Linked DNA regions of Homo sapiens: region 2 is linked to region 1. Evidence: fine-mapped expression QTL. A gene starts in region 1. The other region holds a variant in brackets. All regions are shown on one strand. Distances are between the middles of the regions.

The links. PIP is the estimated chance that this variant, and not a neighbour inherited with it, causes the effect. A credible set is the group of variants that fine-mapping cannot tell apart.
Region 2: its variant is the best candidate, but not a certain one, in a credible set for the expression of OCA2 in caudate (GTEx, PIP 0.64).

Annotation. Positions count from the first base shown.
Region 1 is chr15:28,093,121-28,108,236 of GRCh38, reverse strand. It overlaps OCA2 (OCA2 melanosomal transmembrane protein), which reads left to right and starts at 8,922. Exons shown (of 24, transcript NM_000275.3): 1 at 8,922-9,013. RefSeq lists enhancers at 1-472, 473-1,034, 8,975-9,627.
Region 2 is chr15:27,960,124-27,975,239 of GRCh38, reverse strand. OCA2 (OCA2 melanosomal transmembrane protein) reads left to right here. Exons shown (of 24, transcript NM_000275.3): 15 at 8,418-8,550. Among named protein-coding and RNA genes, the nearest start is that of OCA2, 130 kb to the left of the region's middle. The variant G/A (reference allele first, on the strand shown) is at 6,536.

The sequences.
Region 1 (15,116 bases):
AACTTCCAAAGCCTGAAGTTATATAGTTCACTTTGACAGACAAATGTGTGCAGCCGAGACCATTAAACTGTAGAAAAGACAGACGACCCATCTGTGCTAGGAGTGGAAACTTGTCACATTGACAATTGTTTGGAAGCTCACCAGCATTGTGAATTGTGGATTAATTGTGGTTTCCTGCCTGTTTGCTTTTCTGCTGATAGAATCGGTGACAGTGGCTGTGCCCTTATGATGTGCATGAAACTGCAGTCTGCTTAGAGTTAGGAGAGCTTTACATGGTGCCCGACACCGTGGGCACCCTTAGCGTCTCCGACAGGAACTTCTGGTGGTGTCCGAATACGGCCCCCCGCGTTGTCCCCAGGGGCGGACTGCCTCCCCTCCAGGACTTTCTCCTGAGCCGGTGGGCCATGCCTTCTCCCCGCCTGTCGGGCATATCTTTGTGCACAGCCCGTGCGGCCTGGCCTGGCTCTGCGTCCCACGCTGCCGGTCCATCTTTCCCCCCAAATGCAGCTCCACAAGCGAGGCGGGATCGGCGCCAGTGCCCAGCCCGGGATAGCCCGGGGCAGGCGGCCACCCACCAGCAGGCCCTGGCGCGGAGGCATGCGGGGTGGGCTGAGCGCGGGGCCCCTGCGCGGAGGCTTATCCACGACCTCAGAAGGGGCTTCCGGCGCTGCTGTCGCTGGAAGGCATTTTGTGCTGGGCCCTGGCTGGCCCGGGGCTGGCCCCTGCGGCTGCCCGGGCTGTTGGAGGAGGGAGAGGTGGCGGCCTGGCCGGCGCGCACTTGCTGTTTCCATTCTCAGCGGACCCGCGCTGGGGTGGCCGCCGGCGGCAGCGGTCTTTCGGGCTCACCCTCAGGTTTAACCAGAAATCCGGGAGTAGCTGAGAGAGCTTCGGAGCTCCGTGCACTGTGCGCTGTCCTGACTTGCCAAAAAAGAAAGCAGAAAAACACCCAAAGCACGTTCGAGAAGAGAAGGGGGAAATCTGGGGTCTGCCCTTCCTTTAGAAAAGCCGAGGTTCAGGGTGAGAGCCCCTCTGAGCGGTCCTTGGTTGAGCTAGCGGAGCGGGGAGGCTCCCGGCGCCCCTGCGATGAGACCCCACCCTCACGCCGGCTGCGCCCCGGGACCTCCGCGAGGATTCGTCCGGCGGGCGCGCGAGCGAGCGGGGTCTCTTCGGGTTTCAAGCGGCCCCGGGGCCGGCGCCTCGTGACCCTGCCGGACTCTCCCTCCCCGCGCGGCAGCGAAGCGCATCACCGAGGCTGGGGCCGGGCTCACCGTGGGGCCAGAGCCCGCTCCCAGCAGGATCTCGGCGAAGACCAGCCCCCGCACGCCAGCCCGCCGGGTGGAAGCCCGGGGCACCAGGACAGGCCCGGAGGCGGCCGCGGGGCCCGGTACTGCCTGCGAGGAAGTCGCCTCTGCCCGGCCACGCCGCTCCTCCCGCAGCGGTGCTCCCGGGGTTGCGACCACAAACCTCGGCGCTCTCGGGGTGATGCCTGCTCCGCCACCAGGGCCCCCGCGCGCACAGCCCCCTCCCTGCGCTCGCTGTTGCCGGCAGCCGTGGAGGTTCAGGCATTTGGCGTGGCCGTGGTCGTGGGGAAATTCCCCGCGTGCGCCCGGTGCCCCCACCCTGCTGTGCGCTCCCCGCTCCTCATGCCAGGCGGGGCCGGAGGCCGGGGCCCGGAGGGTGGAGAGACCCTTGGGGACAACGAGGTCTCAGAGCACAAACGCTCAGCACTGCGGGTGACACCCCGGGTCCCAGCCCGGGAGCCCGCGGGTGGAGCCGCTCAGCCTTGCTCCTGGCTTGGCCCAGTCTGGCAACACTGCCTTGGGTACAGCCTCCTCCTGGGTGAGGGAGTGAGAGGCAGAACCCCCACCACACGCATGCTCCCCGCACCCCAGACGCGCACACACACCCACACACATGCATACACACACACCCCCAACACATGCACACACGCGCGCGCACACACACACCCCACACGCACACACACCCCCGACACATGCACACACACACCCCACACACACATGCACACACACCCACACACGCACACACACCACCCCAGACACATACATACACACACCCCACACACATGCGCACACACACACCCGAGGCACGTACACACACCCCTACAAACCTCACACACGTGAACACACCCCACAGAACTCCCCACACACATGCACACACACATACACTTCTCACACCCCACATGCACACACACCCCAGACACACATGCACACACACATCACAGACATGCACACACACACCCACACCCCACACATGCACACACACTCCACATCCCAGACACATGCACACACACCCCACATCCCAAACACATATGCACACACACCCCACACCCCAGACACACATGCACACACACCACACACATGCACACCCCCCACACCCGACACATGCACACACACCCCACACACCACACATGCACACACACCCCACACACCACACATGCACACACCACACACATGCACACACACACCCCAGACACACATGCACACACACCCGACGCACCACACACCCCCACACCACACACACACCACACACATCCTCACACCATACACACACCACACCCCCACACCACACACACCCCCACAGCACACGTACATACACACAACCTACACACATGCACACACACCCCACACCCCGGACACACATGCACACACACCCCACACACGCACACACACCCCACACATGCGCGCACACACCCCACCACACACACCCCCACATCCCACACACATGCACACACCCCAAACACCCCAGACACACATGCACACACACACCCCACACCACACACACACCGCACCATACACACACCACACCCACACACCCACATCACACACCCCCACACCACACACACACCCACACCACACCCCCACACCACACACACTACACACATGCACCCCCACACCCACACATGCACACACATGCGCACATAACCCACACACTCCAGACACACATGCACACACCCCCCATACACCCCCCCACACACATACCCCACACACACCAGACACATGCACACACCCCACATAAACACCAGACACACATGCGCACACCCCACACACACCACACACGCACACACACCCCACACACCAGACACACATGCACACACCCCACACACACCAGACATACATGCACACACCCCACTCAAACACCAGACACACACATGCACACACACCCCACACACACCAGGCACACGCATGCGCACACACTCCCATACCCCACACATGCACACACCCCACACAGATGAACACACACCCACCACACACATGTACACACACACCCATGCGTACACCCTCCCCCCACACCCCAGACACAAATACACCAAAACACACCCACACACCCACACGTACACCAACCCCAAACACACGTACACCCTATACACATACACATATACCCCCCACACACATACATCCCTTACATACAGCCCGTCACACACACCCCCCACAGACATACACACCTCCTAAACACATAAATCTTGGCCCCTTCACATACACTCACCCTCACACACACCGTCTTCCCTACCCTCTCCCCACCCCATCCCCCTCCCCATGCTGCCTGCAGCTGGGCAGGTGGGCAGGATGCGGAAGGAGAGCGCTGGGCCTCTGAAAAATTGGAACAAGGAAGGCCCCTGACAGGCCTGCCCTGGGTGGCCTGGACAGGAGGGTCGGGGCCTGAGGACATTCCTTGTCACTGCCAGGGACATGCCATGATGGCTCACCATGTCAGGAAGGGCCAGGCCCACTGGCAGCCAGTCTGGCGAGTGAGTCCTACTCAGGGTCCTCCAGGCCGAATCGCGCAGACCTCACTCCTCCCCGATAGTCAAGATAGTCAACACTTCAAACAGGGAATCGCTCAGGGCTACAGTGAGCTATGACCATGCCCCTCCCTGCAGCCTGGGCTGCACAGAGGGACCCCGTTTCTAAAACAAGAAAATACAAAAGATCGTTTTAAAAAGGTCTTCGAATGGGTCCATTCTGCATGGAGGCCAGCTCCACAGGGTGGGAGGCTTTTGTCTGCAGGACCTCCTGGGCCTCATGTCTCATGGGATCCAAATGCAAATGGAAACACACACGCACAGAGATACCAACTACTCAACATCCAGAAGCAATAGCAGGCACCTTCGTCCCTCAAGCTGCAGACTCCCGTGTCCAGCTTCGCTCCCCGCTGGAGCACCAGCTCTCAGGACCCCACTTTCTTCCCACCCCCACGGGCCTGGCCTCCCCATTCTCCTGCCACCCAGGGCCGCCCCTCCGCATGGAGCCTTCAGCTCAGGATGACCCGGGACTTGGGCCAGCCCCTCCCAGTCACAGGACCCACCCTCTTCAGGATGAAGTTTATAATCGTTTTTATTCCTGAGTCAGTCCTGGAGTTTTTGCCCATCCCACTCACTTTTCAAAATTGATTTTTTCCCCACAGACAAATGAGACTTTCTATTTTCCTCTAATTCATTAAAAGAAAGACATTATCGATCAGATGGTACAGAGAAGTCCCATATACACCCACCCCACACATGTAGCTTGCCCCAGTGCACATGCTGCCCACCAGATTGGCCCATGGGTTACACCAACACACCAGCATTATCCAGAGGCCTCGGGTTACATCGAGGCTCACTCGGGCAGTGCCTTCTGTGGGTTTGCACGAATGTTTAATGCCCTGTATCCGCCTTACAGTATCATACAGACTAGGGCCGCTGCCCTGAAATCCCCTCCAGCTAGTCATCCCTCCGCTCCCCACTAGCTCCTGACAGCCACCAATGTTTTTACTGTCTCCATAGTTTTACCTTTCTAGAAAGTCATCTAGTTGGAATCAGGCAGTATGCAGCCTTTTCCGATTGGCTTGTTTTACTTAGTAATCTGCATTTAAGGTTCTTCTGTGTCTTTTCATGGCTTGATAACTCATTTCTTTTTAGCTCTGAATAATAAATATTCCATTGTCTGAATGTACCCTAGTTTGTTTATTCATTCACCTCCTGAAAGGCATCTTGGTTGTTTCCAAGTTTTGGCAATGACAGATAAAACTGCTATAAACACCCGTGTGCAGATTTTGGGTGAACATAAGTTTTCAAATCATTTAGGTAAATACCAAGGAACATTGGTTGCTGCATCATATTCTAAGAGTGTTTAGTTTTGTAAGAAACGGCCCAACTGTCTTCCAAAGTGGCTGTACCATCTTGCGGTCCCACCAGCAATGAATGGGAGTTCCTGTGACTCCACAGCTCATTACATTTAAACATGTCTTTAAAGTCCGGAATTTAAGTTCAGAAGGTAGCATCATGCCCTCATGTTATGCAGCTCCTGCCTCCTAAAGCCGTGGTAACTTTAAAACATGGCTCTGGCCGGGCGCGGTGGTTCACGCCTGTAATCCCAGCACTTTGGGAGGCCGAGGTGGGCGGATCATGAGGTCAAGTGATCGAGACCATCCTGGCCAACATAGTGAAACCCCATCTTTACTAAACACACAAAAATTAGCTGGGTGTGGTGGCGCCCACCTGTGGTCCCAGCTTCTCAGTAAGCTGAGGCAGGAGAATTGCTTGAACCCGGGAGGCGGAGGTTGCAGTGAGCCAAGATCACGCCACTGCACTCCACCCTGGCGACGGAGCAAGACTCCGTCTCAAAAACAGAAACAAACACAAAAAACATGGCTCCAATGTTCTTTGACATTCCTCCCCTCAAGAACTGGTGTCTGTGTCCTTCCTTGGGCTCCTTGACTGCTTGGCCAATAGAATATGGCAGAAATGACACCTGCCAGTCCTGGGTGCAGGCCCTAAGGAACTGGTGGCTTCTGTTTCCTGTCTCTTGGGCCCCAGCTGCCATGCTGTAAGGAAGTCCAAGAGCTGGTGCAGGGGCCACGTGGCAGAGCCGACAGACCCGCCCTAGAGTGAGCAAGTGCACCTCCGGATCCTCCAGACTCCAGTCATTTCCAGCTTTCACATTGCCCTGGCTGCAGTGGGGAGCAGACGAGCTGTTTCCACTGTGCCTTTCTGAATTCCAGACCCGCAGGATCTGGGAACTTGACAGAATGCTTGCTGAATCAAGCCAACTTCGGGCAGGGGTGGGTGCATAGGGTTTGTGGGCTGAACCATGGCAGGAACAGGCAGAGACTGGGGACTGCAGAGGCCTGCACAGCAGGTGGCCCCGGGGACCCCTGGGGAAGGATTCATAAAGGGAAGCTGTAGACAGATTTCCCCATGACGGGGCTGGAGGGCTGGGCTGGGAGGCGCTTTCTTCTCTCTGGATGCTGTGGTCTGGGGAGGCAGCGCTTTCCTGCACCCTCAGGCCTGCCCAATTCTGAGAGCTTCTCACTTTCCTGGACCATTGTCCTCTGAGTCACAACTGCCTGTCCAGGGCAAGAAGCCAAGGGTGCCTTCACTGGGTCACCCACAAACATAAAATATGCACATACACGTACACAAAAGCGACACCGCATCCCAGCCCTCTGCTTGGAAATAGCCACCTTTGGCTTTTATATCTGATTCCAATGGTGCTGTTCTTTGCCAAGAACATTTAGGGGGACCTTATTTTGGGATTTCCTTCTGGAATTTCCTTGGCCAGCCAAAAAAGTATAATTCTATATCATATCTTGTTTGGGACCCAAATCTTCATGCTCAGGAGAAACCACATCATTTCTGAGACTGGCCCCAATCACTTGTAACTGAAGAAGCACGGTGCCCCTTGAAGGCAAGTTTGGCTGTTCGAGTCACACACAGGCTTCCATTGATGCATCTGCAGGCAACACTCACTCTCAGCCACCAGGAAAGGAAACCCCATCTGGCCCTGAGGGTCAATCAACCAAGGGGACTGATTGACGGCAGCTAAGAAGCCCAGAGACAGTGAGCATGTGGCTGTGCTGGGTGTGGGTGCCTGTCGGCTCGCGGGGGGGCTTTGTCACCCCTCAGCTGCCGCCAGGGCTGGGACACATAGATTTGGCTCACCCGAGCCAGTCCCTGGCATGGAAGTTGGGTTTCCTCCATTACTGTGGCCACTCAGGGTCTATCCCTGGAGCTGGGGTAGGGTTGCTCCTTCCCCATACATTCAGCAGTTACACAAAAACAACTGTGACCTGCAAGGCACAGAGAGCCACACGCTTGGCCGCAGCTGTCCTGCTGGCGTTTCAAAGCCCGCATTTCGACAGATCTGCGTGCACACCAAGAGCCTTCTGCCCACTCAGGGAGCCTCCCCCGGGCTCTGTGCCCCAGCCCCTTCCCGCCCTGTAACAGTGTCCCTGAGGCACTGGGAGGGGAGCAGGTGCAGTGATGAGCGAGGAGGAGACAGTATTTCTGGGACGGGAACTGGTGCATCGGTGGTCACAGGCTCCCTGGAGCCGCCATCCCACAAGGATGGGGGTCACCATGCAGGCTGCTTGCCAGCCATATCCACACCTAACGCACACGGCGGTCTGAACTGAGGGGTCTGCACATGCGACAGTGAATGTGGTCTCAGAGATCTCGGGCTCTCCTGCTGTCAGGGCCCTGGCTGGGAACTTCAGTGTCCTGGAGCCTGCCATGCCGAGGACATCCTCGGTCCCTGCTACCAGGGCAACCCCTGGCCCACCCTGTGGCTGTGCAATGTGCTCTGTTATAAGGCATGAGATCTCTTTCAGCTCTGCTGTTACACTGTGGATGGAGCCTCTTACTTCCTGCCAATTCCTGTGCAGGGCCTGGCCACTGCAGCTGTGTGTGTGTCTGTAGCTGTGTTGTCTCCATGTGTTTGTGCGTGTATCTGTGTGTGTGTCTGTATCTGTGTGTGTATCTGTGTGTGTCTGTGCGTATATCTGTGTTTGTATATCTGTATATGTGTATCTGCGTGTGTGTCTGTGCATGTATCTGTGTGTGTGTCTGTATGTGTCTATGTATCTGTGTATCTCTGTGTCTGCGTATCTGTGTGTCTGTGTATCTCTGTGTGTAGATCTCTGTATCTGTGTGTATCTGTGCATGTGTGTATCTGTGTGTCTGTATCTGTGTGCCTGTGTATATCTGTGTCTGTGTATCTCTGTGTGTGTCCGTGTGTGTATCTGTGTGTGTCTCTGTATCTCTGTATCTGTATGTATCTCTGTATCTGTATCTGTGTGTCTGTACCTGTGTCTGTGTATCTGTGTCTGAGTATCTGTATATATTTGTGTGTGTCTGTGTATCTGTGTCTGTGTGTATATCTGTGTATCTGTGTGTATCTCTGTGCCTGTGTGTGTGTCTCTGTGTATCTGTGCATGTGTCTGTGTGTATCTGTGTATGTGTGTCTGTGTATCTGCATGTGTCCTTGTGTGTCATCTGTGTATCTGTGTCCTGTATCTGTGTGTCTGTGTATTGCTGTGTCTCTGTGTGTGTCTCTGTGTATGTGTATCTGTGTATCTGTGTCTGTGTATATCGTGTCTATCTCTGTATCTGTGTGTGTGTCTGTGTGTATCTGTGTGTGTCTGTGTATCTGTGTGTGTCTGTGTATCTCGTGTGTGTGTCTGTGCTGCAGGAGGGGCTGTCGGCAAGTGTAACCTTGGCGTCCTAGCTGGAGGGCCTCTCAGTGCCCGCTGGGAGAGCTCTGAAGGGAACAGAATGTTCACTGAGCATTTCCCCGTTCTTGTTCATAGGGAAAAGCCTGTCCGCAGTCCTGGGCCGCCTCTTTAGAGGTAAAGCTGGAAACTATCCCCGCGGAGAGCGCTGTCGGGGACGCCGGGGCGGCGTGGCCTTAGACGGAGCTGCTCTCAGCCCGCGCCGCCGGGGGCTGGGGAGCTGAGGGGCCGGGGGTGCGGAGCGGGCGAGCTGTGGGCGGGGCCATGTGGGCAGCTTTGTGGGCGTGGCCGGGAGGGGCGTGCTACGGGCGTGGCCGCACTGTGGGCGGGGCCGAGTGGGGAGTGCTGTGGGCGGGGCCGGGCCGGGGGCGTGCCTGGGTGGGGGACCCGCTGCGGGAGCGCCGAGCTCCCTCTGAGTTCTTACTTCGAAGGCTGTGCTCCGCTCACCATCCAGAGCGGAGGTGCGGACCTTAAACTCACTCCTGGAGAAAGATCTGCAAGTGCGCAGGTAAAGTGCACGTGCTCCGCGGTCGGGAGGAAGGAGGCGAGGAGCCAGACTAGCCTGGGAACAGGCAGGGAGGGTTTACACAGCCCCGGCTGAGTCGCGGCTTAGGAAGCAAGGCAAGTTCCCCTAAAGGTTAGTGTGCACAGACGGGTGCGACGGAGCCGACCTAGCGCGGCTGAGTCCGCCTGGGCCTGCAGCAGCTGCCCCCTGAGCACCCCCTCCGGCTCTCTGCCAGGCGACCCAGGAAAAAGTCGCCCCCTGGTGGGCCATGAGGTCATGGGTGGGGGGAGTTTGGAAAGGTTCAGACAGCAAATGTTCCACTTGAACTCCAGGGCAGCATCTGGCACTGCGGGGCCTCCTAGCCATGAGCCGTGGTCAGGCGTTTCCTTAGAATGGAATGCACTGGAGTGAAAACACTAAATCCCTCAAAGCTGCTTCTCTTTACTGTGGTCACACACAGTGAAATCAATGGGCATTAGTGCAGCTAGCTCTTTTCAAGGACACAATGTTAAGCACAGGAAGCCTGGTATGTGGACGCTCTGGGTTTGCAGAACCAGGCAGGGGCCAGGGGCTCAGGACAAGTGCCCGGTGCTCCCTTCCCATTGGGCGAATCAGAGCCTGGGGCCCGGCGGTGAAGCTCCCCAGGTGACTCTAATGTGCAGTGCACTTTGAGGAGCACTACTTAGACCAATGTGACAGTCTACAATGTGTAGATTTAGGGTGAGTGATTCTGAGGAAAAGAAACCCGAGGCTGTTAGCAGTTGTGGGCAGCTGCTGTCTACCTAAACCAGCTGCGGTTTGCTTGCTTGGTGAGCCTGAGCTTCGCGGGGCGGGCATGGCATCTGCCATCCAGGACCCTGGGACGGGGCCTGCCAGGGCAAGGAGCTGAGCATTGAACGCATCTGGGGATAACTATCTCTCATAGAAGAACTAATGAGGATTGAACCTGAACACAGAGATGAAAGAGCTGAGTAGACTGCAAAGAATTGCACAAAAACTGCTTGTTCTGCAAATTTAGTTTACAACAATTTGAGTGCAGTTCACATTGGTGTAATGTGATTTAGGATCATAAGTCCCTAAAGTTTCATTACACTGATGAAAAGCAAATGCCTATACTGTTCTTGTTTTATGAGAAGAACGCAACCTCCAGCCCCTGGAGCAGCTGAGATCTGAGGATATCAGGAATACCAGGAATGGGGAGGTCCTGGCTGTCCCTGGAAACCCAGCGGCATGACACCTGTGTCACCTGGGTCCCCGTTTCTATGCTGGAGTGGCAGGCAGCAAGGAAATATTTTGAGTTTGAGGCCATATGCATTTTGGAAAGATCACTGTGGCTGGGGGGTTGGGAGCAGCTGGGGAGTTGAAGAAAGCCACTGCCAAGGCCTTCCCACTGAGTGTGGTTGCCAGGCCGGGGCAGGGAAGCACTGGTGAGCTGCAGGGGGGATTCCCAGTTGGTGATGGGTGATGGATGGTGGGATCAGTGGGCCCCTGGGAAAGGCCAGGTGTGGCTTCAGCACTCTGGGAGTTTTGGGTACCTTTATGTCTAGGGACACAAAGAGGTAGATGGACACAGTGGTTTGAGCTGCAGAAGAGAGTTGGGCGGCCACCTGTCCACAGGTGAGGATGAGGTTTCTTGGGAGAGTAGAGAGAAAGGGGAGGCTTTTAACTGTTAGTAGTGGAAAGATGGCTTGCAATGGAGATAAAGGCTACCACAGAGGGGAGGAAAGCCCAGAGCCTGGAGGCCAGGGGGCAGGATCTGGGGCAGGGGCTGACCCAGTGTGGCATTCTCCATATGCTGGAAATGTGAGAAGAGACTCCACAAGCCGGAGCTCCCTCAGCTCCTTGGGGCCGCTGGCTCTACCAGCTCACTCGCTGGTTGTTGGGTTTCCGCAGTTTCCATTTGGGGTTCTGTCACTGACCTGCAGGCAGCCGGCTTGTCGCGGGCTGTGGCTCTTGCGCCGGCCACCCGCGGGACCCGCGCAGTTTCGGCGGAGCGCGGCGGGGTCCGTGTGGGTCCGACCCGTGGGGAGGTGTGGCTGGCGCGCCTGTGCTCTCGGCCCGGCCACCCACTGAGGCGCCAGGAGGCGCATTCCGCAGGGCGGCGGGGAGCAGGTCCGGTGTTTCGAGGAGCATGGGACACAGTTTCCAAGCTGGCCTGCAGGATGGGCGAAGGGACACCGAACTACAGCGGCACAGCGCCGGGCCAAACTGCCCGCAGCTGGGGTAGCAGAGGAGGCTTGCGGCAGCGGCGCCGCGGGGAGGGGTCCTGGCCCCGGGCTGGGAGCGGGGCTGGGCGGCCGCGTGCCCGGCTGCGCGTTTGCTGGCGCTGCTCGTTTCTCCCCGAGAGGTGCGCCTGGCCTGCCGCGGGGCCGCCAGTCCCGGGGGGCCCTGCGAACGCGGCCCTCGGCAGAGCCCACCCGCGGCCTCCCGAGGCCCTCTCCCGGGCCCCGCCCCTCCTCCCAGGCTGGAAGGAGGCGTACTCTTTCAAACAAGAACAGAAAACGGATGGAAAGCCACGATGTTTGGCTTAACGTTCTAGAAGCTTTTAACCAAGTTCACATGTTGAAAAATCCACCTGAAGGGATATACGGTCACACTCGCGGTCTCGGTCCAGGCCCGAAGTGGGGTGGGGGCACCGCACCCTACACTGCCCTCAGCGGGACACCCCTGTCTCAGCCCAGGACCGGCTGAGGAGGAGGCTGACCCCTGGACGGGCTTCTTCAGGCCTTCTTGGCCGCAGGGCTTCTCCTGCCCCCTCCCTGGGATCCGGGAACTAGAAGGAATGCTTCAAATGCAACGGTCACAGCATCGCTCCTGCGGACACCGCCAGGCTCCCGAGACACGGCTACGCCTCCGGCTCACAGTCACGCCCGACACAGACAGACCACCTCCAACGAAAAGCCACGCCCCCGGAGACACGACCACACCTCGGAGACAGGCCATGCCCCCGGAGACACTACCAAGCCCCAGAGACACGACCACGCCCCAGGAGACACAACCACGCCCCGGAGACAAGCCATGCCCCCAGAGACACGGCCACGCCTTGGAGACAAGCCACGCCCCCGAGACCAGCCACCTCCCGGAGACACGACCACGCCCCGGAGACAAGCTACGCCCCCGGAGACACATTGACGCCTTTGCAGACGCAGCCAGGCCCCCGGAGAGAAGGGCCGTGCTCCGAGAGACACAGCCATGCCCTGTGGACCCAGCCAGGCCCCTGCAAGCATAGCCAGGGGCGGTTTCTCGCTCAGAGGGACGCCTTGGGGCTGAGCAGCGCATTAGGGACGATTTGGGGCCAAGCAGCGCTTTGTGGGGAGGGGAGCGTTCAGTGACGGGTGTTTTCTCTGGATGTTAGACACTGTCCACCAGAGGGGAGTTGGCTGCAGAGGGACTGCCTTTCAACAGCCAAATTTTCACCTCAGCGCCTAAACCTGGTGCTTCTCGTTCCTTGCCGGTATTATGTCAGATATTTAAAGAACTCGAAGAACAATGTTCTTTTTTTTTTTTTTTTGAGACAGTTTCGTTCTTGTTGTCCAGGCTGGAGTGCAATGGCGCCATCTCGGCTCACCGTCACCTCCACCTCCCTGGTTCAAGCGGTTCTCCTGCCTCAGCCTCCCGAGTAGCTGGGATTACAGGCACGCGCCACCACGCCCGGCTAATTTTTGTATTTTTAGTAGAGACGGGGTTTCTCCATGTTGGTCAGCCTGGTCACGAACTCCTGACCTCAAGTGATCCGTCCGCCTTGGTCTTTCAAATTGCTGGGATTACAGGTGTGAGCCACCGCGCCCGGCCACAATGTTCTTAAGATTTACGAAGAAGCTGTTTTCCACACGCTGTTGATCGCCGCCACTGTGAAGTCGGCGTGCGGCGCCTGCTGCCGGCTGTCGTTTCACAGGGGCGGGGTGGGAGGGCCGCGGTCCCCCGGGCGCACCCGGGCGGGGAGTGCGCAGGGCGGCCTGGCTGGGCCACTCCTGCCCTCCCGCCGGGCGCCAACCGGGGATCCGCCAGCTCGAGCTCTGCTCCGAGTCCCGCAGACCCACCATGCCCGGAGCACTCAGCCGTGCGGCCACGGGCGTGCCAGTACCAGCGGGAAAGGCCGGGGCTGCCTGGACCTGGGCAGGAGGCGGTGACCCGGCCTAGCTTGAGCGCCGGCAGCACCGCTCTCTTGGCTGCTGCTCATTCACACCCGCAGGCCTGGAGCCTTTTCTTGGGCCGAGCAGGTGACCCAGGCTCCTGTACGCAGTGGAGAAGGGCCCAGGCGTGGAACGCCGTCCCCTTCCCGGCAGGGCAGGTGTCAGGACCACGCCCGGCGCCGCGCCCTGGCCTCTGTCGGTCCTGGCACCGGTGCCGTCGCCCCACTCCGCCCTGGGCACGGCTGCGGGAGGCGGGGCTCGGGCAGGCTTGGTGAGCGTCTGGCGCGCTCTGAAGGCCACGGCACGGCGGGGCGTTGAGGGCCTCGGAGAGAACGGTGCTGGCAGCAGGGGCGGCAGGAGGGGCCCGGGCCCACCCCCACCTCGCAGGGCCCGAGTTCGGGGGCACGGTTGCAGGCAGAAAGAGCGCAGAGCCGGAGAGAGGGCCGGCAGTAGCCCACACGAACGATTTGGGGTTGAGTGTGAGGACTGGAAGGTTCCACCGACTCTGAACCATCTATTTTTTTTTTCTAAAAATAAGCCACAACTATCTATTTTTTCTTTCTAAAATTTGGTGACTTCGGTGTGAGTCTTGCTTGGAAGGAGGGTCCTGGGCGCCATCGCGGGGAGGACCTGGAGGGGTGGGTTGGGGCTGTGGCATACTCCGCCCTGTGCCGCCGGCTTACAGCTCCCCTACCCCTCTCCCGCCAGCTGCAGGTGTCCCTACGGGCGGGAGCTCTGCCCAGGGTGGCCCTGCCCTAGGCAAGTCAAGCGCATGGGGCCCAATAAAGCAAAGCCAGGCTGAAGCTGTGGTTCCCGTGAGAGTGCAGCCACGGGCTGGGGTGAAGGGAGGGTCACCCCAGAGGACGGGCTGTGTGCTAGTGTGTTGGGGTCCCCCAGAGGTAGGCTGTGTGCTAGGGTGTTGGGGTCCCCTAGGAGACAGGCTGTGTGCTAGGGTGTTGGGGTCCCCTAAGGGACAGGCTGTGGGATTGGAGTGCTCCATCATCTGCATGAGAGGCGATGACCAGGTGGGACTAGGAGGAGTTAGGATGTGTTTGGAAGAACTGGATGAGGAATGTGTGAGAAAGAGGGAGAGTTCTGGGTGAGCAGAGGCCTCTGTCTCCCAGGGAAGAGGCAGGAAGTGAGGTGGAACGAGAGCCCCTACTCAACCCCGGACAACCACTAACCTGTTCCCCATTGATATAACTTTGCCGTTTCAAGAATGTTGTAGTCATGGAATCAGAGTAAATAGTCTGTTGGAACTTGCTTTTTTTCACTGAGGATTTTCACTCTGGATTCCTCTACGTTGCTGTGTATGAATTGTCTGTTCCTTTTGATTGTGGCGTGGTCTTCCCGGCATGCATGCACCGCAGCCTATTTCACACTCCCCTACGGACAGACGGCTGCGTGGCTTCCAATTTTTCATATAGCTTCTATGACCATTTGCGTGTAGGGTTTTGTGTGAATGAAAGTTTCATTTCTCTGGGATTAATGTCCAGGAGTGCAATTGTTGGCTGGTAGTTGCAATTTTAGTTTTTTTTTAAAAACTGTCAAACTGCTTTCCAGAGTGGCTGTACAATTTTACATTCCCATTGGTGATGCAGGAGTGAACCACCCTCTCGAGTCCTAGGCAGCTGGCGGTGTTGTCTCTGTTTTCTTTTTTCTTTCTTTCTTTTTTTTTTTTTGAGACGGTGTTTTGCTCTTGTCGCCCAGGCTGGAGTGCAGTGGCTCACTGCAACTTCCACCTCCTGGTTTCAAGTGATTCTCCTGCCTCAGTCTCCTCGGTAGCTGGGATTACAGGCGCCCGCCACCACACCTGGCTAATTTTTGTATTTTTAGTAGAGGCGAGGTTACACCATGTTGGTCAGGCTGGTTTCGAACTCCTGACCTCAGGTGATCTGCCTGCCTCGGCTTCCAGGTGTGAGCCACTGCGCCTGGCCTGTTTTCTATCTCAGCCTTTCTGATAGGTGTGCAGT
Region 2 (15,116 bases), 130 kb after region 1:
GACTAGCATCACATTAGTGTTAATGTAAAATCCTAGGCATGGTGTATTTCTTACACACAATCTGAATTAACTCTGCATCATTTTAAGCCTGCCCTTACAGTCCTAGATCGAAATATTCTGAACTAAACAATATGATATGACCCAAGACAGACACTGGCTGTGTTTCTACCAAGCCACGTAGAAAACTGAGGGCAAAGAGCAGTCTGTCAGACCATTGCTACAATCCTCCATGGCATATGACGAGCCTTTTTAAGATATCCAGGTTTTAAATACGATGGTAGGAAAGAAAGGTGAGGACCCTGGAGGTGAGTACACCCTATGGTCTTGCTGAGGCTCAGCCCAGGCTTGTCATACAATTTTCTGCCAAAGTGACATTCTCTGGGAAGATGGCCTTAGGACTGTCCTTATTTTACTGAAGACAGCATTCCTTGTCTTCTACTTAATGACTTTCTCTGAATTTGGGAATTAAACTGTAATGGAGTCTCACCCTATTGCCCAGGCTGGAGTGCAGTAGCGTGATCTTGGCTCACTGCAACCTCCGCCTCCTGGGTTCAAGCAATTCTCCTGCCTCAGCCTCCTGAGTAGCTGGGATTACAGGTGCATACCACCACGCCTGGCTAATTTTTATATTTTTAGTAGAGATGGGGTTTCACTGTGTTGCCCAAGCTGGTCTTGGAATTACTGACCTCAGGTGATCCATCTGCCTCGGCCTCCCAAAGTGCTGAGATTATAGGCATGAGCCGCCATGCCCGGCCTTGATTTTAATTTATTTCACAGTAGTTTGGAGATAAGGAAATACTTCTCTGTATGGAGACACAGATGCACTCATAGTTTCAGGGACAGTGTCTTCAGTAGAGATAAATTTATAAAGCCTCATTATCAATAGTGACAGCACAGCCATACATTTGCCTCACATGATGTGCATATTTATTTTGCATTGTTTACTTGTTCATCAAGGAACTCAAATAGGAAGAAAACAGATTATGAAATAAAACTTAAGTTTGAAATTAATTTTAAAATTATTCCTGAAGAGGAAGTCCTAGTCAGAGTAATCAGACAAGAGAAAGAAATAAAGAGTACCCAAATTGGAAAAGAGGAAGTCAAACTATGTCTGTTTGCCACTGATATGATCTTATACCTAGAAAAGTCTAGACTCCTCCAAGACTCCTAGATTTGATAAATGAATTCAGTAAAATCTCAGGTTACAAAATCAATGTACACAAATCAGTAGCACTGCTATATACCAACAATGACCAAGCCAAGAATCAAATCAAGAACTCAATCCCTTTCACAATAGCTACCAAAAAAATAAAATACCTAGGGATATACTTAACCAAGGAGTTGAAAGATGTCTAAAAGGAGAGCTACAAAACACTGCTGAAAGAAATCATAGATGACACAAACAAATGGAAATGCATCCCATACTTATGGATTGGAAGAGTCAGTATCACAAAATGACCATATTGCCCAAAGTAACTTACAGATTCAATGCAATTCCTATCAAAATGCCAATATCATTTTTCACAGAATTAGAAAAACCAATCTTGAAATTCATATGGAACCAAAAAAGAGCCTGAATAGCCGCCAAAGCAATCCTAAATAAAAATAACAAATCTAGAGACATCACATTACTCAACTTCAAATTATACTAAAAGGCTATAGTAACCAAAACAGCATGGTACTAGTATAAAAGTAGACACATAGAGCAATGGAACAGAATTGAGAACCCAGACATAAAGCCAAATACTTACAACCAACTGATCTTCAACAAAGTATACAAAAACATAAACTGGGTAAAAGACACTCTCTTCAGTAAATGATGCTGGGAAAACTGGCTAGCCACATGTAGAAGAATGAAACTGGATCCCTATCTCTCACGATATACAATATAACTGAAGATGGATTAAAGACTTAAATCTAAGACTTGAAACCATAAAAATTCTAGAAGAAAACCTATGAAAAACTCCTTTGGACACTGACCCAGGCAAAGAATTTAGGACAAAGACCCCAAAAACAAATGCTGCAGAAACAAAAATAAATGGGATCTAATTAAACTGAAAAGCTAATGCAGACTGGGCATGGTGGCTCACGCCTGTAATCCCAGCACTTTGGGAGGCCAAGGTGGGAGGATCACTTCAGGTCAGGAGTTAGAGACCAGCCTGGCCAACACGGTGAAACCCCATCTCTACTAAAAATAAAATAAAAAAATAGCTGGGCGTGGTGGTGCATGCTTGTAATCCCAGCTACTCGGGAGGCTGAGGCAGGAGAATCACTTGAACCAGGGAGGCAGAGGTTGCAGTGAGCCGAGATTGCACCACTGCACTCCAGCTTGGGTGAGAAAGAGAGACTCTGTCACAAAAATAAAATAAAATAAAATAAAATAAAATAAAATAAAATAAAATAAAATAAAATAAAATAACCATCAAAGTAAACAGAAAACCTACAGAATGGGAGACAATGTTTGCAAACTATGAATCTGACAAAGGACTAATATCCAGAATCTATAAGAAACTCAAACAAATTAGCAAGAAAAAAAAAATAATCCCAATAAAAAGTAGGCAAATGACATGAGTAGACATTTTTGAAGAAGATATGCAACTGGCCAAGAAACATATGAAAAAATGCTGAACATCACTAATCATCAGGAAATACAAATTAAAAGAATGAGATATCACCTTATTACAGCCAGAATGGCCATTATGGCCATTATTAAAAAGTCAAAAAACAATAGATGTTGGCACAGATGTGGTAAAAAGGGAATGCTTATACACTGCTGGTTTGAATGTAAATTAATACAACCCTTATGGAAAATACTGTGGAGATTTCTCAATGAACTAAAAGTATATCTACCATTCAATCCAGCAATCCAGTCACTGGGTATCTACCCAAAGGAAAAGAAGTCATTATATCAAAAAGACACCGGCACACTTATGTTTATCACAGCACAATTCACAACTGCAGAGATATGGACTCAACCTAAATGCCTATCAACAGATAAGTGGATAAAGAAAATTTGAGAGAGAGAGAGATATGCGTGTATATACACCCACACACACCATAGAATACTACTCAGCCATAAAAAAGAATGAACTAATGTCTTTTGCAGCAACTTGGATGGAACTGGAGGCCATTATTCTAAGTGAAGTAACTCAGAAATGGAAAAGCAAATACCGCATGTTCTCACATATAAGTGGGAGCTAAGTTGTGAGTATGCAAAGGCATACACTGGTAACGAGAACATTGGAGACTAGGAAGAGGGGAGGTCAGGAGGGGTTGATGGATGAAAAACTACATATTATGTACAATGTCCACTACTCTGGTGATGGGTGCACTAAAATCCCAGACTTCACCAGTATATAATTTATCCATGTAACCGAAAACCACTTGCACCCCTAAAGCTAATGAAAAAAAAATTCACAAAGAAAATGAATACTTATGTAGTTTGGAGGAATAATAAACAAATCAGCACTAGAGTTTGGAACAGTAAAGAAGTCACATCTGAAAACTCGTCCACATTTTCCGAGCATTGGGCAGAAACGACAGGAAGTTGTGAGGAAAGTTCTTGCCACCTACCATTGCTGCACGAGGCTTAGGTCTCTCAGGTCTCTTGGGATAACTCTCTGTCGGTGGAATTTCCAGCACTGGACAGGTAGGTAGGGAGGACCTCCAGGACCCACCACATGGACAACCACTTATTCCCCAGCCACAAGCCTCCCTTGGGTAAGCATGAGTCGGCCTGGCTGTAGCATCCACGCGCACCAACCCACTGCACCTTCAGCTCCTAACAAGCTGACAGGATAAAGTTTTACTTTGCTGGTTACATTTGCTCCTTTATGCCTGTTCTACAGAGACTCACCATGGTGAGCAAAACTATTCAACTATCTTTAAAATAATACCTGAAAAGTCTCTTGAGGGAAGCGTGCCCCTATGCTTCTGAATAGCATCTTTGTAAGAAGACAGGTTTCCCTTCATGCCCCACGTTGTGTACTTGGATGCTTTTTATACTTTTCCCACTATACTGTGCGCTGGGCTTGCTGGGACATTCTTCCCGTTTTCCCACCATGCCATGCGTGCTGGGGCGTTCTTCACGTTTTCCCATCATGTCTTGCATGCTGGGAGGTTCTTTCCGTGTTCTCACCATGCCGGGCATGCTGGGGCGTTCTTCAGGCTTTCCTGCCATACTGTGCTTGCTGGGACATTATAATTATGTTTTCCCACCATGCCTTGCATGCTGGGGCATTTTTCACGTTTTCCCACCATGCCGTGCTTGCTGGGGAGTTCTTCAGGCTTTCCCTGCCGTACTGTGCATGCTGGGACGTTCTTTACGTTTTCCCATCATGCCGTGGGTGCTGCCACGTTCTTCCTGTTTTCCCACCATCCCATGTGTGCAGGGACGTTTTTCACGTTTTCCCACCATGCCATACGTACTGGGGTATTCTTCAGGCTTTCCCTGCCATACTGTGCATGCTGGGATGTTCTTTATGTTTTCCCAACATTCTGTGTGTGCTGGGATGTTTTTCACGTTTTCCCAGCATGCGTTCTTCAGGCTTTCCCTGCCGTACTGCGTATGCTGGGACATTCTTAATGTTTTCCCACCATGCCGTGTGTGCTGGGGCGTTCTTCAGGCTTTCCCTGCCATACTGTGCATGCTGGGACATTCTTCATGTTTTCCCATCATGCTGTGCGTGCTGGGACATTCTTTACATTTTCCCACCGTGCTGTGTGTGCTGGGACCTTCTTCATATTTTCCCACCATGCCGTGCCTGCTGGGGCGTTTTTCCTGCGTTCCTGCCATGCTGCATGTGCTGTGAAGTTCTTTGGCTTCTCCTCCACTACTGCTTTTCCCCCACTCCCTTGGGTGTTAATTGAGACAGTGTCTCTCTCTTGTGGGCCCTGCTCTGCCTCTCTGGCCCCCTCTGAATTTCCTTTATGGGGTTTTTTTTTTGGTTTGTTGGTTTCCACACACCTATTTAATATCTGTGGGCTCAGGGGTCTTCGTTTTTGACCTTTTTCTCCTCTCAGATCAGCACTGGCTAGCAAAGCTCATCCCCTCCGTGGCTTGCTCCGTTTTCAGCTTGCTGGGATCTGTGTCTCTGCCAGAGGCTCTTCCTTTAGACCCATGTGTGCCAGGACCCCTGCACCTATGCTTGATGGATCCCTTACAAGCAGCGAGACCCACACCCCCGTCTGGCCCACACGCATTCCTGCAGTGCTGGGTCCTCTCCTTACTGGCCATCTAGACAGGATTATATTTTCAAATTACACCATGCATATTTTACTAAAATATTCAATAGATTCAGCTAAACACTTCATAAGAAGCTTTTTTTTTTTTTTAAATTTTCACATGGAAGAATTCAAGAAATCATTTTGGCTTGAGCCCCTCCTTTGCAACCTAATGGACCATTTTGACTTGTCACAGAGCTAGCCTGAAGCGTCATTCCTAGAAAATGATATTGGTGGGCCAGAAGTCCCTCAGGCGTGTCCCCTTAAATGTATGTAGATTATGAATCTGGGAATGTTCTGATCTGATTGAGGGTTCCTCTTTTGTTTGGTTTACGTGCCTAATATTTGGCCATTTAATCCATCAAATGAGGACAGTGGGGAAAATTAAGAAGAAAATGACTGAGTGGAGCCTATAATAAAACAATACAAAGCAGAAGTGGCACCTTGAAGCAGAAAGAGCGCATTTAGGCGCTGAATTGATGTGAGTGTGCTGGTGGATAGTTTTGTTACTGGGAACACAGACGAGAGTCTAGGAAATTACAGAGGCATGTAAAAGCAGCAGGGTGTCCCAGATACCTGCGCCTAATAAGCTTAGTGCAAACATCTGCATCCCACTGCACACTGCATCTGCCTGTTTCCTAAAGTGATCAGTTTGGATTTTTCCCTTATCATTGCTCTTTTGATGAATCCACCCATCGCAAGTCTAGTAGCAACCAAATGCTTCACTCAGTGCTGTGTCATTTTGCTGTGGACGCACACCCAGGACCTCCTTACTTTTTTTTTTTTCTTTTATCTACTCATCACTTTTTTCTCCAATTGCCCCAACATTTCAAATGGGGCAAAACTTTATAGTTATTATGTTCTAGAGGGACCAAGAATTACTCAGGATATAGGTACTTCTGTCTTCTTGGGACATTTTCTCTAAAAAATATTAACAATTGCATTTCATGACCCAGCTAGTGTATAAATATATTAGTACTATAGTTTAAATCATTTTCTCTGACGCAACAGTTCCTTTTTTTTTTTTTTTGCCTCTGAGTTTAGAAGAATTTAAAACAGTTTCATAAGCCCCTAAAAGTATCGTGGATCTTTTTCAGATATCTGGGGTATGAATTATAGAGATAAACACAAAATTCAATGTAATACCCCCATTGAAGAACTATCGGGAAAGTGGTGAATTCTTCTATATGATCACCCAAAGCATTCCATGAGTCCCGCCTCTGTGTGGTTTCCCTGCCATCTGTCCAGGAATTAGCTTATATAGCTCCACCTGTCATTTGTAATGCTGTTTTCAAGGACAACCATTGGATGT[G/A]CCGGTAACTGCAAGGGATTAAGCATTTCAGATTATTGTATATTGGCAAGCTCTAAACTTTTACACAACTTCATTGATAATGGCCTCTAGTTGTGTTGTATCTTTAATAATGTTGAAAGTGATTTCACATATTTTCTAAAAGTGAGAGGAAAAATACATAAATTTTAATAAGGAACAATTAATATAGTTTAAATCACTCAAACCCAGACCTTTGGAAGGTGATTTTCCAAACTCCCAACGTGGGATCCTCACTAACGTTCTGTGTGACTTGCCACCCCTCTACCTATGTAAGAGGTTCCTAAGGGTCCCAAGGCAGAGCTGGACTGCCCGTGGTCCCTCCCACCCTGCCCCTGTCATTCCCCATGGTCGTGCATTGTCACTGTGCCTCTGACCCCCTTTGTGGCACCTGTGATTCATGGACACTACAGAAAAGACCTTGAGTTCTTGCCAGATGGCCAGCTTCATGGGGATAAGAGCCTCATCTGTCCTGCTGGGGGCTCAGGAGGTGCCTGCACAGATGTGCTGAAGGTGTAAAAGCACATGGTCTGTGAAAGAACAGAACCAACCAATGACGCTGCTGACTTACTCCAGGACGTCTGTGAAAGAACAGAACCAACCAATGACGCTGCTGACTTATTCCAGGACGTCAGCGAAAGAGCAGAACCAACCAATGACGCTGCTGACTTATTCCAGGACGCCAGTGAAAGAACAGAACCAACCAATGACGCTGCTGACTTATTCCAGGACGTCAGTGAAAGAACAGAACCAACCAATGACGCTGCTGACTTATTCCAGGACGTCAGTGAAAGAACAGAACCAACCAATGATGCTGCTGACTTATTCCAGGACGTTTGTGTGTGAAAGAACAGAACCAACCAATGACGCCGCTGACTTATTCCAGGACAAATCAACCTAGTGGGGATTTGCCCAACTCTAAAGATACCCTCAGTGGCCGGCCACGTGCAGAGCCCTAGGCAGGCAAAGGAAGCGTGCCGGGAAGGAGAGGTTCCTGCTTGAGTCCCTGCGGCTGGTCCCCATGCTCTAAGCGATCCCAGCCCTGATGGGCCCTGAGTGCCCTGCAAAGGGCTGTGCTCTCCAGCCACGAGGACACTTTCAAACCGATGGCAGGGACTTAAATGAAGTGTTTAAAAATTCAACTTACCTTTAAATGGGCAAATATTATCATATAGTTTAGTATTTTGTCCCATTCAGTCTTTTTTCACCCTATCTTGGGGAAGGCATCAATCTAGTGGTGAAGATGGACCAAGCCAAGGTTGAGTTAGATGTGGTAGCCTGTTTTTGTTTCTTCCTATGATGGCTTGTCATTTGTGTAAGAATTGGTTTTTGGTTTTCGACATGAAAGAAACAAACGTTAACAATTTTCAAAATCATGGTAAGGAATCCGTGGTCTTTCGTGGGCTTTGTGTTGGGCTCCAGGACCTCTGCCTAAGGTCCTGGAACTCCTGGTGAGCCCCTTCCCTCCTGGGCTCTGGCCCTCCCTGGACCCTGACTCAGGGAGCTGCTGCCTGTGCGGAGGAAAGGCCCGTCTTCCGTTTCTTTTTGTTTGTTTGTTTTGAGACGGAGTCTCGCTCTGTCGCCCAGGCTGGAGTGCAGTGGCATGATCTCGGCTCACTGCAAGTTCCGCCTCTCGGGTTCACGCCATTCTCCTGCCTCAGCCTCCCGAGTAGCTGGGACTACAGGCACCCGCCACCACGCCCAGTTAATTTTTTGTATTTTTTAGTAGAGACAGGTTTTCACTGTGTTAGCCAGGATGGTCTCCATCTCCGGACCTCGTGATCCACCCACCTCGGAAAGTGCTGGGATTACAGGCGTGAGCCACCATGCCTGGGCTGCCATTTCATTTCCCCTTGTTTATTTCCAGGGCCTGGACTTTGCCGGATTCACTGCACACATGTTCATTGGGATTTGCCTTGTTCTCCTGGTCTGCTTTCCGCTCCTCAGACTCCTTTACTGGAACAGAAAGCTTTATAACAAGGAACCCAGTGAGATTGTTGGTGAGTACAAGTGCAACCTCATGTAGGCTCAGATTTCATGACCATAATATTGTTTGTTTACCAGGAGAAGTTCTTATTAGGAAGTATCTGTTGATGGGTTGCTGGATGCTCAATACCAGTGACTCTCCACGTCCACCTTCTAGTATACACTGTTTTCAGGGCTGCTATCATGAGCTGTGCCTCTTTAGTTTTCTGTGAAGTGTACTGTGGTAAAATGTGGGAAGTAATGGCCACCATGTACAACTCACATGTCATAACCCCCTAAAGCCACGTGTATATGGTACAAATACACTAACATATAGACTGCAGTGCTCTAATAGTGTATCATAGCTTGAGTCTTAAATATGACTGGAAATAACAGCAACATAACCCAGCACAGGAGGTGATGGGCCCTGTCAATCAAGAGCACATGCTAGGCCAGGCACGGTGGCTCACGCCTGTAATCCCAGCACTTTGGGAGGCCAAGGTGGGCGGATCACCTGAATCAGGTCAGGAGTTCGACTCCAGCCTGGCCAACATGGTGAAACCCCGTCTCTACTAAAAATACAGAAATTAGCCGGGCATGGTGGCACAGGCCTGTAATCCCAGCTACTCAGGAGGCTGAGGCAGGAGAATTGCTTGAACCCAGGAGGTGGAGGTTGCAGTGAGCCAAGATCGTGCCACTGCACTCCAGCCTGGGCGACAGAGTGAAACTCTGTCTCAAAAACAAACAAACAAACAAACAAACAAACAAACAGCAGATGCTGAGCACCAGCCAGCAGGATGAGGGCTTAGGGCCATCTTATCGTTTTGCATTTTCATCACTAAAACACTTTAGTAGATGTTTTACTGAGATCATTACTGATTAGAATATATTAGGAACAATAGATTATTTGGGAAACAAGCAGCCTTTCCTTGACGAGCTCCAGAATATGGATGCTGTGCAGGTTGCCTGGGTAACAGGGGCATCAGGCGACCAGAGCTCAGCAGATGAAGGCGCTCTTCTTTGGGAATTTGTAGAGCTCACGGATTGCATGTTGATCTCTCTCAGCCTTTGTGATTCTGCTGGCCTGTGTTTTACAGGATCTCAGTTTGTCTTTGTTCTGGATAAGATACCCAGATTCCATTTCCACATGGGTGGCTGGAGGCCACGACATGGTCCTGCCATACTCCAGTTCCTCCGATGCTGACTGTCCAAGACAGATCTGTGTGACTTTCATGTTATTCAGAATTTGAGTATTTAAAAAATCTCATTAAGAAAACATTGTTTTGCATTCCTCCTCAGGATTCATCTGTCAAAACAAGCTTGTTCTTGGGAATATCTACTCATCTTACCTGGGGGCTGGACCTAGTTCAACCCATAACAACTAGTTAGAGGTGTTTAGAATGTTTTATAATCAACTAATATATGCAAAGTAAGATAAATTAATATATAGGTTTCTTTTTCTGATGAAAATGTTAGAACTAAGGGAGAGTGAAGGAGACTGTGATCGTGGTGGATAATTGTCCTGTCTCTTGGAGCTTGTGTGTGCACAGCTGTGTCTTAGTGGAGAGCTCAACCGTCATCCTGCCCAACTATGCCAGCCTCTCCCAACCTCCCTGGTGATCACAGTGACCTGGGACAATTGTTGTATATGCAGATTTTCAGCGTCATCCCCAGGAATTCTGTGTTGTTAGTAAGCTGTCCTGAAGAGTCTAATCTTGAGATGAATTTGGGATACACAGATTTAGACACACAGAAAATAATCTCTGTAATGAATTCCTCACCGTTCCTGAGTAAGGAACAGAGAAAAGCTTCGAGGGAAGTGGGGAGTGATGGTTGGAAGTGGACACACCTGGTGATGCAGGAACCCTATGGCCGGGCTAAGACCAGCAGTGCAAGGTGGGGTGATTGCTCTGTGCCACTGTGGGGCTTAGAGGGCTCCAAATTTGGAGTGGTGGGTAAAACTGCAGATTCCCAAGCCCCACTCAAGAGATCTGAGTTTAGCAGGCCTGTGGTGGTGTACAGAGCATTGTCAGAACAGGCTTGGTTATGTTGCAGTGAAAAAGTAACCCTGAAATCTCAGTGACTTCCAGAACTGTGTTTTCTTCCTTGTGTTGGCTTTGTACCCCCCGCCCCCTCCCCAATGGACTGGCAGGGGCCCTGATCATCATCTGTTCTTAGAGTCCTGAGCGGCTAGCCTTGAAGGCAAAGAGAATAGCATGGTCCCATTCTGCCATCCAGTGACACAGGCAGGCCCCACCCAGTCACAAGGGACCAGGACAGGCCAGCCTGCCAGGTGCTCAGAATGGGAGAGAGCATGACTTACATGGTGAAAAGAACAATAATCACCAGAGCCTATCCCTCTGATCACCAAATGTTCAACTCATGCTGCTTCTTGCTAATACTTTGTTTAGCATTTTGTTTTTGTGTACATTAGGGATCTTGATTGTAGTTTCCTTTCTTGTAATGTCTTTTTTGTTGTCCTCATAGGAGGAATATGGAAATATTTCCTCATCTTCAATTTTTTGGAAGAATTTCTGTAGAATTGCTATTACTTTTTTCTTAAATGTTTATTTGGACATTTATAGGCCTGGATGTTTTTGTGGAAAGGTTTTTAACTACAAATTCAAATCCCTTAATATACATATAGGGATGGCTATTCAAGTTATCTGTTTCTCCTTGAGTGTTGACTGGTAGTTGGTGTCTTTCAAGGAATTTGTCCATTTAATCTAAGTTGTTGAATGTATTGTTATAAAATTGTTCATAATATTCTTTCATTATCCTTTTAAGGGCTATCAAATTTTTGATAATGTCATATCTCTCATTCCTGATGTTGGTAGTTTGATAGTTTGTGTCTTCTCTCTCTCTTTGGTTGGTTTATCAATTTTATTGATCTCAAAGAACCAGCTTTTGATTATATAGATTTTTCTCTACAATTTTTTTCTCTTTTAATAATGTCTATTGTGCTCTTTATTTATTTTTTTTCTGCTTACTTTCAGGCTTGCTTATTTTTTCACTGGTTTCTTAAAGTGGAGGCTAAGGTTATTGATTTTATGTGCATCTTATTTTCTAATATAGGCCTTTAGTGCTCTAAATTTCCTTCTAAGTATTACTTTAGTGGCCTCTCACTAATTTATTATTTTTATTTCATTTTCATTCAGTTCAAATTATCTTATAATGCATCTTTTTATTTTTTCTTTGATCCTTGGATAATTTAGATGGTTTATATACCTTCCAAGTATTTGGGAAAGTTTTTGCAGTTACCTAATTTAGTTCCACTGTAGTAAGAGAATATATTTCATAAATCTTGAATCCTTTAACATTTATTGAGGCTTGTATGGCTATAGAATGTGGTCTACCTTTGTAAACATTCTGTGTGCACTAGAAATGAAAACGTATTCTGCTCTTGTTAGGAGGGATGTTCAGTGATGTCAATTATATAGCTTAGGTCAGATTGGCTGATAATGTTATTCAAGTATTCTATATTCTTGCTGATTTTCTATCTACTTGTTTAATTATTGAGAGATGGATACAGACGTGTCTAAGGTTGATTATAGATTTGTTTATTTCTCTTTGTAATTCTATTATTTTGCTTTATGCATTTTAAAAGTTTACTATTAGGGCACATAAATATTTAGGATTGTTCTTTCATCTTGATGATTTAACACCTTGCTATAAAAACAATCTTTGCGATCCATGATAATATTCTTTGCTCTGAAATATACTTTGTTGTTAATATAACAATTTCATTTTTCTCTTGACTAGTGTTAGTGTGGTGTATCTTTTTCCATCTTTTTACTTTTAACTTATTTATATCTTTAAAGTACAGTTCTTGTAAGCAGCATATATTAGCATCCTGATTTTTTATCTACTCTGATAGTCTGTCTCTTAAACCATTTATATTTAATGTGCTTAGTGATGCGATTGAATTTAAGTGTAACATCATATTATTGTTTTATATTTGTGCTTCATTATTACCCTTTTCTTCATTTATGCCTTCTTTTGAATTAATTGAGTATTTAAATACATTCTATATTTTCTCCTCTGTTGGTTGTTACTTTTTTTGGCTTTAATTCTGTTTTGTGATTTTAGTGACTATTATACCACTAACTTTGAGCGATATTATACTACCTAACATACAGTAGAAGAACTTAACACTAGTATAGTTCCATTTCTCTCTTTCTGGCCTAGGCTTCTTCTCCTGAGATTCCCAGCTCTGAGCTCACTACTCTAGGCTTCCCTGGAAGCCATCACCTCCTGTGTCAGAGCACATCCCACACGGCACTTTCTTTGCCTGTTTGAAACATGTATGTGGCCACTCTAAGTAATACCATCAGAAGTTGGTTGAGAAGCTCAGAAAGATAGAGGCTGATAGAGAGGTAAGACATGGGATATCTGATGATGTCTCCTAGTAAGAGGCTAGGGTGGCAAAGACAAAGAGTTGAAACTTATATGGCAGAATCAGAGCTCACAATGGTGCTGGGCATTTGGGGTTTTGAGTCTTCTCTGAAGATCTTTGACATCTTTAGCTTTATTCTACAGGCCACGGGGAACTACTGGATATTTGAAAGAAGGAATTTATCTGTCTATCTTCTATTTATCTATCTGTAATCTATCATCTAATCTAGGAAATGATAGATCTAGGAAGATGATAGCTAGATAAATATCAGTCATCTTCCTATCATCTGGGAAATAGATTTATTTTGTTTTATTATTTTAATTAATTAATTTAAAAATGTTTAAATTATTTTTATTTTTATTTATTTTATTTTATTTCTCAATTACACTTTAAGTTCTGGGATATATGTGCAGAATGTGCAGGTTTGTTACATAGGTATACACATGCCATGGTGGTTTGCTGCACCCATGAACCTGTCATCTGCACTAGGTATTTCTCCTAATGCTATCCCTCCCCTAGCCCCCAACCCTCCGACAGCCCCCGGTGTGTGATGATCCCCTCCCTGTGTCCATGTGTTCTCATTGTTCAACTCCCACTTATGAGTGAGAACATTCAGTGTTTGGTTTTCTGTTCCTGTGTTAGTTTGCTGAGAATGATGGTTTCCAGCTTAATCCATGTCCCTGCAAAGGACATGAACTCATCCTTTTTATGGCTGCATAGTATTCCATGGTGTATATGTGCCACATTTTCTTTATCCAGTCTGTCATTGATGGGCATTTGGGTTGGTTCCAAGTCTTTGCTATTGTGAACAGTGCTGCAATAAGCATACGTGTGCATGTGTCTTTATAGTAGAATGATTTATAATCCTTTGGTTATATACCCAGTAATGGGATTGCTGGGTCAAATGGTATTTCTGGTTCTAGATCCTTGAGGAACCGCCACACTGTCTTCCACAATGGCTGAACTAGTTTACAGTTCCACCAACAGTGTAAAAGCATTCCTATTTCTCCATATCCTCTCCAGCATTTGTTGTTTCCTGACTTTTTAATGATCATCATTCTAACTGGAGTGAGATGGTATCTCATCGTGGTTTTGATTTGCGTTTCTCTAATGACCAGTGGTAATGAGCTTTTTTTCATATGTTTGTTGGTCGCATAAATGTCTTCTTTTGAGAAGTGTCTGCTCATATCCTTTGCCCACTTTTTGATGGGGTTGTTTTTTTCTTGTAAATTTGTTTAAGTTCTTTGTAGGTTCTGCATATTAGCCCTTTGTCAGATGGATAGATTACAAAAATTTTCTGCCATTCTATAGGTTGCCTGTTCACTCTGATGGTAGTTTCTTTTGCTGTGCAGAAGCTCTTTAGTTTAATTAGATCCCATTTGTCAATTTTGGCTTTTGTTACCATTTTTTTTTTTTTTTTTTTGAGATGGAGCCTTGCTCTGTCATGCCCAGGCTGGAGTGGAGTGAAGCAATCTTGGCTCACTGCAACCTCCACCTCCTGGGTTCAAGCAATTCTCCTACCTTAGTCTTCCAAGCAGCTGAGATTACTGGTGCCTGCCACCATGCCCAGCTAATTTTTTGTATTTTTAGTAGAGTCAGAGTTTCACCATATTGGCCAGGCTGGCCTCGAACTCCCGACCTCAGGTGATCTGCTCGCCTCAGCCTCCCAAAGTGCTAGGATTACAGGCGGGAGATAGATACATAGATACATAGATAGATAGATAGATAGATAGATAGAGCAAATGGTGTTTTATGATTAAGCAGGGGCAGGTTTATAGCAAGTGACTGTAGTTAAAGGTTACTAAGGAACAATAAGAATTAAGAAATGTGAGAGGGTGAGGCCTGGACAAGAAGGTAACCTAGGACAGGAAGAAGCAGACAAGGCAAGAGCTGTGCCAGCATATCCTGGGTGGCTCTTGAGGCTCACACTACCCTAGCGTATGTTTATTTATGATATATCTTATATCTCTTTCCAGTTTTGGAAGGCCATCTTGTAACTTACCAATGAAATTTTATCCTTTAGCATCAAACACAGATCTGACACCTGTGACACAATAATGTTAATGTGGAAATATAAAAGAGAATGACATTGACAAGACCAGGATGACATTTCAGTCTTGTGTACCTGGAAGAGCAATTGCATTATATAAAAACTAAGAAGGTAAGGGTAGGAGAGAAACTTTATGGGAGGAAGATAAAGTGTTT